2 separate regions of the Homo sapiens genome follow, and region 1 is linked to region 2. The links come from fine-mapping of genetic effects on gene expression. A gene starts in region 2. The other region holds a variant in brackets. All regions are shown on one strand. Distances are between the middles of the regions.

Evidence for each region. PIP is the estimated chance that this variant, and not a neighbour inherited with it, causes the effect.
Region 1: its variant is the best candidate, but not a certain one, in a credible set for the expression of ARHGEF33 in prostate (GTEx, PIP 0.83).

What each region holds. Positions count from the first base shown.
Region 1 is chr2:38,811,838-38,817,223 of GRCh38, reverse strand. DHX57 (DExH-box helicase 57) reads left to right here. Exons shown (of 24, transcript NM_198963.3): 20 at 1,569-1,703; 21 at 3,329-3,403. Among named protein-coding and RNA genes, the nearest start is that of GEMIN6, 36 kb to the right of the region's middle. The variant C/T (reference allele first, on the strand shown) is at 2,438.
Region 2 is chr2:38,887,243-38,892,628 of GRCh38, reverse strand. ARHGEF33 (Rho guanine nucleotide exchange factor 33) reads right to left here and starts at 2,754. Exons shown (of 18, transcript NM_001145451.5): 1 at 2,643-2,754.

The DNA of each region.
Region 1 (5,386 bases), 75 kb after region 2:
GCAGTGGCTCATGCCTATAATCCCAGCACTTTGGGAAGCCAAGGCAGGCAGAACCTTTGAGCCCAGGAGTTCGAGACCAGCCCGGGCAACATGGCGAAACCCCATCTCTACAAAAAAATATAAAAATTAGCCAGGCGTGATGGTGCACGCCTGTGGTCCCAGCTACTTTGGAGGCTGAGAATCACTAATCAAAAGTGGGTGGGGGGCTGTGTTTATATGTACAGGGCAATAAGAAATATTTTCTCAAGTCATTAAGATGCTTAAATATAAGATGAGGATATTTCTTTTAAATTACATTTCCTACTAAATTTTTTTTTCATTAGGATATGTGTAGATTTTGCTGTGACTTATGAGGTCCATCAAACAAGAGTTGCATCTTTTCACTAAACTTCAACTTAGATTGTAGGATTGTTTTTATTAAGATTTCAATTAAAACTTTGTCATGAAATAGAAACTGCGGTATATTTAACTCCTAATTATATTCTAGTTATCCATGTATACTTGAGACATTCCAAGAAAATACTTAAACCATCATTGAGAGACAGGGTAGTGTTGCTTAGCTTTCAGTTCCTTGAATGATTATTATTTCCTTCTCTTTGTCTGATGTGCAGCCTATGTGAGAACAGTAGCCACAAGAAAAAGAAGTTTGTGCTTTCTTTCTCACATTTGTGCTCAGCCACTAAAAGGAGCATCTCAATCTTAAACCATGGCCGGGCGTGGTGGCTCATGCCTGTAATCTCAGCGCTTTGGGAGGCCAAGGTGGGCGGATCACCTGAGATCAGGAGTTCGAGAGCAGCCTGGCCAACATGGTGAAACCTCCGTCTCTACTAAAAATACAAAAATTGGCTGGGCGTGGTGGCACACACCTGTAGCCCCAGCTACTCGGGAGGTTAAGGCAAGAGAATCACTTGAACCCAGGAGGCAGAGGTTGCAGAAAGCCAAGATTGCGCCACTGCACTCCAGCCTGGATGACAGAGCAAGACTCTGTCTCAAAAAAAAAAAAAATATTGAATCACTTAATGATGTCCCTATTCCTAGGAAAAGAGATGAGCCAGCAAGACCATAATGAAGGAGAAAGAGGAAACATTCTGCTGAGTTCCACTGAGAGCACGAACCACTCTAGGCCTGAGTAAGGAACTGAGAGGACAGGAGCAAAAATGCAAGTAGGAAAAGCTAGGTAGTAGACAGTGCCGCAGCACTTGGAGTTGGAATTCCAGTCAAAACAAACAGCATTTTTTGCTGTCCTAAGAATTTCGTGGAAAATCAGGCCTACCCAAAATCCAATGAGAGTGTTTAAAATTGTAATCTAGAGTTAAATAAATGATCCTTGGATTTATTGAATTTTTGCATTTCTGCATAACCGTTTCAGTTTGCCTGCCAGTTTGCGTAAGTGAAAGCTGCTTCTTGGAAATGACCAGACAAGATCCTCTTCATACCTGAGGAATGAATCCACTTGAGCCTCATTGCTACCCCCTGAAATAATGCATTTTTATAATCACTCATTTTTGTAAGACTTAACACTTTGTTATGCTGATGCCCTTGCTTAAAGGTTTTTCCACTTCTTTCAGGAAATGGCCAGCCTCAAACGACAATTCACGGAACTGTTATCGGATATAGGGTTTGCAAGGGAAGGGCTCAGAGCAAGGGAAATTGAGAAAAGGGCCCAAGGAGGAGATGGTGTCTTAGATGCCACAGGAGAAGAGGTAAAGAATGTGGAGTTGGTTCTCATTTCTCTTTAATTAGCACCTAAATACAATCTTAACCTGGGAACACTTGTAGACATTCTTCTTCACTTAAGCCTTTGAGCAGTGGGTTAATGGCATTCTTGATTTTCTGCTTCGCACAAATAAATATCAGCTGATCTGGCACGGTGGCTCGTGCCTATAATCCCAACACTTTGGGAGGCTGAGGCAGGTGGATTGCTTGAGCTCAGGAGTTCGAGACCAGCCAGAGCAACATGGTGAAATCCCTCATCTCTCTACAAAAAAATTAGCCAGGCATGGTGGTGTACCACCTGTCTTCCCAGCTATGTGGGAGGGTGAGGTGGGAGAATGATGTGATCCCAGGAAGCAGAGGTTGCAGTGGGCTAAGATTGAGACACTGCACTCTAGCCTGGGCAACAGAGCCAAACCCTGTCTCAAAAAAAAAAAAAGTATAAAAAAATTTTTTTAAGTGTCAGCTAACACTCATAAGAATAGAGGGGGCTGGGCACGGTGGCTCATGCCTGTAATCCCAGCACTTTGGGAGGCCAAGGTGGGCAGATCACTCAAGGTCAGGAGCTCGAGACCAGCCTGCCCAACATGGAGAAACCCTGTCTTTACTAAAAATACACAATTATCCAGGCATGGTAGCACATGCCTGTAATCCCAGCTACTCGGGAGGCTGAGGCAGGAGAATCGCTTGAACCCGGGAGGTGGAAGTTGCGGTGAGCCGAGAT[C/T]GCGCCATTGCACTCCAGCCTGGGCAGCAAGAGCGAAACTCTGTCTCAAAAAAAAAAACAGGGTTTTCTGCTCATTGTTGCTGTTGTTTTTGGTTTTTAAATTTCATGCTGCTTCTTGATAAATTCATAAGAGATAGAATAGACTTCCAGTAGAATTTTCTCAAATCAGGCCAGCATTTTTTCTAACAAAAGACAGCTTTTTCTATAACTATAGGAAGAGCACTTCTGTAAGATGAACCTGATGCTCCTGTGTTCCGAGTGCAGTTAGCACTTTCTGGAGATTCTGAACATCTCATGAACCATAATTTTTTTCTCCATTTATACTCAGGAACACTGGCTTTGTAACGCTTTGCAAAGGTCTAGAAAGTCATTGTAGGCTCCTTGGAGTGGGTCCAATGTGACTGTGGTCCAGTAGATTTGTTTTTTTACTTAGAAATAATTTTTCTAGCAAAGAGATAGAAATTAGGTGCTCTTTTTTTTGCTTTAAGATAGAGATCAAATATAATAAAACGGTAAATCCTACAGCACAGACAGAAATAGCCATATTAGAGCCAGACGCAGTGGCTCACGCCTGTAATCTCAGTACTTTGAGAGGCTGAGGTGGGCAGATTGCTTGAGGTCCAGAGTTGGAGACCAGCCTGGCCAACATGGTGAAACCTTGTCTCTACTAAAAATACAAAAATTAACCGGGCATAGCGGTGTATGCCTGTAATCCCAGCTACTCGGGAGGCTGAGGCAGGAGAATCGCTTGAACCTGGGAGGCGGAGGTTGCAGTAAGCTGAGATGGCGCCACTGCACACTTGCCTGGGTGACAGAGCAAGACTCCATCTCAAAAAGAAAAAAAAGAAATAGCCATATCACTTGTTAATTAATGCTGTGCTTTTCTCATAGGCAAACTCAAATGCTGAGAACCCCAAGCTGATATCAGCAATGCTGTGTGCTGCTTTGTATCCAAATGTAGTGCAGGTAACAAAACATTTTTCCTAGATCTTTCCATTTTTTGTTTGATTTGTAGCCAAGTGATGTAAGTTAAGATGTGCATATTAATCATCTTAAAGAGATATATACGCATGTGTGCACACACGCACACCCTTTTAAACTTAGTATACATTTTCGGCCGGGTGCGGTGGCTCACGCCTGTAATCCCAGCACTTTGGGAGGCCGAGGCGGGCGGATCACGAGGTCAGGAGATCGAGACCATCCTGGCTAACACGGTGAAACCCCATCTCTACTAAAAATACAAAAAAAATTAGCCAGGCATGGTGGCGGGCACCTGTAGTCCCAGCTACTCGGGAGGCTGAGGCAGGAGAATGGCATGAACCCGGGAGTCGGAGCTTGCAATGAGCCGAGATTGCGCCACTGCACTCCAGCCTGGGTGACAGATGGAGACTCCATCTCAAAAAAAAAAAACTTAGTATACATTTTCAATCCTTCAGTTCCCAAAATCTGTTTGGATACATTATTCAATAACACATTTATTGTATAAAATTTTTAATCCTTCTGACATATGATATTCCAAAAATTAAAATAGACATAAATGTCAGTCGGCCAACCTATATATAACTAACTTTCTATGTTAGTTGGAAACTTGATTCAACTACAGTTTATCTTACACTCTCTACTCTGAACAAAAAGTAAAATAGCCAGGCATGGTGGCTCACGCCTGTAATCCCAACACTTTGGGAAGCCGAGTTGGGCAGATCACGAAGTCAGGAGTTTAAGACCCTCCTGGCTAACATGGTGAAACCCTGTATCTACTAAAAATACAAAAATTAGCTGGGTGTGGTGGTGCATGCCTGTAATCCCAGCTACTCAGGAGGCTGAGGCGGGAGAATTGCTTGAACTCAGGAGGCGGAGGTTGCAGTAAGCCAAGACCATGCCACTGTACCCCAGCCTGGGCCACAGACCGAGACTCTGTCTCAAAAACAAACAAACAAACAAACAAGTAAATAAGGGACAGGCACGATGGCTCACGCCTGTAATCCAAGCACTTTGGGAGGCCGAGGCGGGCGGATCGCCTGAGGTCAGGAGTTCGAGGCCAGCCTGACCAATATGGAGAAACCCCATCTCTACTAAAAATACAAAATTAGCCAGGCGTGGTGGTGCATGCCTGTAATCCCAGCTACTCAGGAGGCTGAGGCAGGAGAATCGCTTAAACCCGGGAGGCAGAGGTTGTGGTGAGGCGAGATCATACCATTGCACTCCAGCCTAGGCGACTAGAGCGAAACTCCGTCTCAAATAAAAATAAAAAATCAGTGCTTTGCCATAAGACCACCTGTGGCCAGCCTTCTGGAAACCCTACTTGAGTGTGCTCTTGGACTTTTACCTGAGTTTTGATTATCCATCCCTAACAAGGCACCATTTTCCCCCAGAGAGTTTCAATTTGGCAGAATACTGAATCATTTTTCAAAGCCTTAACTTTTTTTATTAAATCCTCAGTTAACATCTGACTGATTTATGGCTCATTTTCTGCTTAGCATTTGTATGCTTTTCAAACCATTTGAAATGTACTTTTAAAAAATTGTTTGTGCTTTGTAGTGTGGTTATGAAAGGGAAAAAAGTCATTTGGATATAGATTTACTGGTTTTTATATTATACTCTAGTAATGTAAGGTCTTACCGTTGGTGGAAGCTGGGTGAAGGGTACAAGGAACTCTGTACTATTTTGCCGCTTCCTGTGAGTCTATAATTATTTCAAAATAAAAAGATTATTTAAAAAAGAATGTGGGGGCCAGGAGCATTGGCTCATGCCTATAATCCAAGCACTTTGGGAGGCTGAGGTGGGCGGATTGCTTGAGCTCAGGAGTTTGAGACCAGCCTGGGCAACATGGCAAAACCCTGTCTCTAAAAAAAGAAAAAAGAAAAAGAATGTGGGGAAAAATCATTTGGAGACTTAAAATGTAGAAACAAAGAACATAAATGTGGTATAAGAAGTTTTAGGTGACAATAT
Region 2 (5,386 bases):
TGGTTCTACAATTTTAGCAGAGCCTTAACTTTTGTTTTTGTCAATTGGGGGTGCACTGACTAACTCTGCTAGGAGATGGGGAAAGCACATTTTAAAATGTCTCAAAAAAGAAATACAACCATCCTTTCTTTCCCATTGTTCATCCTTTGCCCGGGTGTTATGGTACTTAGCAGATGTCAGTTAGGTTTTTCTACTTTTCCCCAGTTATCTGTTTACCCACCTTTAGGCATCATCTCTACCCACCCCACCTACTCACACACTCCATAAAAAACCCAGTGAAAATTACGAGGAGGAGATTTTTTTAGAGAGCATAAGAATTTTCCAGTATTTGCTTCTTCATTGCTTGCTAAAACCATGCCAGCATAGCCTGGGGAAAGGTGGAAAGGGCTGGCATTGCCCCATATAAGGGAATTATATCCTCAAATCATTTGAGATAAGTAGGCCCCAAAGACAAATCCAAAACAGCTACTCCCTCATTCTCAGGAAATAAATTCTAGAGATTTCCTCAAATGGATAAATTTGAGAATCCGATTAGCTGCCACTTTTTCTTTATTTTTCTGATTATTTTAGGAAGACTCAAACAGATGTTAATACTTACTACCCTGTCTTTTTGTCAGTAAAGGCATGAACAGACAACAAAATAATCATGAACATACCAATCAGAAGAGTGCTCTCTGTAATATTAGCATTTATGATTTGTTTCGTTCATCTTATTTGGGGCATTCAAAGTGCTTTACAAATAACATAATGAGGGTTTTTTTTCCTTCCATGACTCCCAAGGTGATTCCTGGCACTCTCAAAAGGCACAAGTGATTAGTCAAGTCCTTGGGGCCCAGCAGCAGTAATGTGATGCATGTTGGTTAAACTGTGTTTCACACTCATGTAAATTGTGTGGGGGGCGGGTGGGGAATCTTCCACACTGTCCTTGAGAAGATTAGCAAGAATTATGAATTTAAAGATTCTTACATTTATAAAAATCCAAACAAAGAGAAATATTGAACAAATCATACTCCAGTCCTAAAATCAAAGTCTAAGGGTCTTAACCTGTGGTCCCAGGAATAGGGTTTCAGGTCACCTGTAAATCTTCTGAAATTGTATGCAAAATTTTGTGTGATTTTACTTTTTTTTTTGCAGAAATGGTGGACTGGTTTCTGAAGATTCTAAAAGCAATTCTTGACACCGAAAAGGTTAAGAACTGCTGTCATTAAAGAAAAAGAAAGGAAGGAAGAGGGAGAGAGGAAGGGAGGAAAGGAGAGAGGAAGGGAAGGAGGAAGATCAGTTGATCTTTGTATCTACATTACTTAGTTTATTACTGGCCTGCTATGTTGAAGTACACCCTTATACACAGAGAAAAGGGAAGGTAAATAAAGGGAATTAAGAAAAAGTTAACAATAAGGCCGAGCATGGTGGCTCACACCTGTAATCCCAGCACTTTGGGAGGCTGAAGTGGGAGGACTGCTTGAGATCAGGAGTTCAAGACCAACCTGAGCAACATGACGAAACCCCATCTCTACAAAAAATACAAAAATTAGCCGGGTGTGGTGGTGTGCACCTGTGGTCTCAGTTACCTGTGGGGGCTGAGGTGGGAGGATTGCTTGAGCCCAGGTGACAAAGTGAGACCTTGTCTAAAAAAAGAAAAGAAAAAAGAAAAAAAAAAAAACCAATAGTATGGTCATCTTGTTTCAAAAGCCTCTGAGTTTTCAAATGAGTTTAGATTGCATTTCCAGAGCCCATGGTTATGAAAAATGTAGACATTAATTAATTCAGTTTGTGAAAAATGTTTAGAATAAATGTGCATCAAAAACTTTTTTCTCTAGGATACATTTCTGATCATTATGTTGAATCCTTCAGAAGTAGCCTTCAATGAAATAGCTATTCCATTTACAGCAATATGATTTTGTATTAAAAGGGGCTATTAAAAATATAAAAGGGTGATATAGAGATTTCTACATATTCAGAATACTATTTCAGCATATAAAAACTCACATAATTCCAATACTAATTATAATAGAACGCTATTCTCACTTAAGACAATGTTTAAGTGAAACTCAGTTCTTCTCATTACACACCAAAGCCCCATGAAGTGTTTAGAATTAGGTTTCACCAATAAAGCCCCCATGTAATTAATCAGTACACATTTTCAATCAGGATATGTTTTTTGTTCTGTACATAGGGGAGTGAATGCTGAAGATTCCCCTATTCTTTTTCTGTGTTAGAAAGGAATAAACCAATCTCCCTCCATCCCTAATCTTTTTCATTCTTTAATTATTCTTAATCCCAAAGAGGCATGTCCATGTCAGATTTACGCTGTCTAGCATCCTTTCTTTAAGACTGCTCTCAAAATTTAACTCATCTTCAACTATATTTATTAATATGCAGAACAACTTCAGTCTCCAGTTTATCGATAACCTGCAAAGCGCAGTTAAGACATAATATAAAAATTAAGCAAGGAAATAAATGTTTTACAAATTGTTATAACTCTTAAATAAAAGTTATTTCTTTGAATGCCTACCTCAAATAAATGTTAGCATATATTGGATTTAAATTAGTACACCACGTGGTAAGGATTGATGGGTTTTCATCTCTTATAAAATTGTTTCCCCTTTCAGTGCCCCTTAAAGCATATAAAAGCGCATACTTACCCCATGTTGCCTGCGGTGGTTATATCATCCTCAGATCAAGGCTTATCTGGGTTCTGAATTAACTTAAAGGTTATAAAAAGAAGCAGTAGAGAGGCTTGACTTCCCCTGAAACGAGACCGTAGTATGCTAACCAGGCTTTTAAATGAGGAAAACTAGTGTCTCTTCTAATTATATAAGCTCCAGGTCAAATTCTAGCATCAACTAATCAAATAACTGAACTGCATTTAGTTTCAATGAGTAAAAAGGAAGAAACCCATTTAGGAGGAATATCTTTGGTATACTAGAAAATTGAAAAGTTGTACTTTGAAAAGTTATTAACATAGCAATACAAGTTAAATATTTTAAGAGTAAAATATATATCTTGCTGCCTTAAATAAATTGAAAAAAATTAGGGAAAATTTATTTTGCAGCAAAGCAGATACTTTTCTATATTTTCCAGAAGTTTTTGAATTTAAATTATATGTCCTGGTCCCTGAAAACATCTTCTCACCTTATCTTAACTTGTCCAGTATTTGTCTCTTCATGAATTTCCATATAATAATAATATTTAATTCTAAAGCCATGCCAGCTAATGTTTAGCAACATATACAAAAATGTCCAATTCTTAAAATGTGTCTTTGAAAACTTACAAATAGGGTCTTTCAAAATTAGCCATAAAGCTATTATTATGAGAAACTAACAAAAATGCCATTTTTATTTTAACATTTTAGAAGACATTGTAACCCAAATTTGTGCCAGTACAGCAAAAAATAAAAATATACATCTTTTGGCAATAACATATTGAGAAATACAAATATTCACAAGATTTTGAATAGAGAAATATGACAAAGAAGTTATCTATTGTGTACACTATTTTTTGTCAGTTTTAGAATATAGAGTTTCAGCAAAAACATTCAGGTCTTTATTGTAATTTTTTAAATGTAGTTGACATATACTGCTCTGGTAATTTTTAAATTATCTTATGTAAAAAGTAAAGAAGTTTTCTGGACATAGAATATATGACAACACACAGATCTACTTTTTAAGAAATTGAGACATAATTTACACATCATACATAAAATTTGTCCCTGTTAAATGAACAATTCAGTGGTTTTTAGTACATTTTCAAGACTGTGCAACCATCACCACTGTCTAATTCTAGAAACCTCATGCCTCCCAATTTCTTCCTCCCCTGGCAACCACTAATCTATTTTCTGTCCCTAAGGATTTGCCTATTCAGAGCATTTCACATAAATGGAATCATATAATATGTGGCCGTTTGTGACTGGTTCCTTTCACTTAGTACAATGTTTGTTTGTTTGTTGTTTTTGAGATGAAGTTTTGCTCTGTCACCCATCCTGGAGTGCAGTGGCATGATCTTGGTTCACTGCAACCTCTGCCTCCTGGGCTCAAGCAGTCCTCCCAAGTAGCTGGGACTATAGGCATGTGCCACCACACCTGGCTAATTTTTGTATTTTTTGTAGAGATGGGATTTTGCCATGCTGCCCAGCCTGGTCTCAAACTCCTGGCAAGCGATCCACACACCTTGGCATCCCAAAGTGCTGGGATTACAGGATGAGCCACCTGCCTGGCCAGTACAATGTTTCTGAAGTTCATCCATGTTGTAGTATCAGTACTTCATTTTTTATGGCTGAATAATATTCCATTATGTGGACATTTTGTTTACACATTCATTAGTTGATGGACATTTGGATTGTTTCCAGTTGGGGCTATTATACATGTCTTAGTCCATTTGAACTGCTATAAGAAAATACCTTAGACAGGGTAATTTTAAACAACAGAAATGTATTGCTCACAGTTCTGGAGGCTGTTAAGTCCAAGATCAAGGCACTAGCAGATTTAGTGTCTGGTAAGGACTTGCTCTCTTCTTCAAAGATGGCACCTTCTTGCATCATTCTCTTGTGACAGAAGAAGCAAGCAATCTCCTTCACATCTCTTTTATAAGGGCACTAATCCCATCCATGAGGGCTCTGTCCTTATAACCTAATCACCTCCTAAAGGCCTCAACTCTTAATACTACCACAGTAGAGATTAGGTTTTTGTTGTTGTTGTTGTTGTTTTTAGACAGAGTCTCACTCTGTTGCCCCTGCTGGAGTGCAGTGGCGCCATCTTGGCTCACTGCAGACTCCACCTCCCAGTTTCAAGCAATTCTTGTGCCTCAGCCTCCCGAGTAGCTGGGATTACAGGCACACACCACCACGCCTGGCTAATTTTTGTATTTTTAGTGGAGAGGAGGTTTCACCATGTTGGCCAGGCTGGTCTCAAACTCCTGACCTTAAATGATGCACCCACCTTGGCCTCCCAAAGTATTGGGATTACAGTCGTGAGGAAATTAGGTTTAAACATGAATTTTGGAAGGACACATTCAGACTATAGCAATGAATAATGTTGCTATGAACATTCGTGTGCAAGTCAATTCCCTTGCGTACATACCTAGGAACTGCTGAGTCACGTAGTAACTCTATGTCTAATATTTTGAGGAAATGTATTCCACAGCAGCTGCACCATTTTATATTCCCACCAGAAATGTGTGAGGCCTCCAATTTCCCCACATCATTGCCAATCTTTGTATTGTCTGTTTTTTTTTTTTGATATAGCCATCCCACCAAACAATGCATGTTCTCACTTATAAGTGGGAGCTGAACAATGAGAACACATGGACACAGGAGGAGAACAACACACATGTTGTGGAAGTGGGGGAAGAGAGAGCATCAGGAAAAATAGCTAATGCTTGCTGGGCTTAA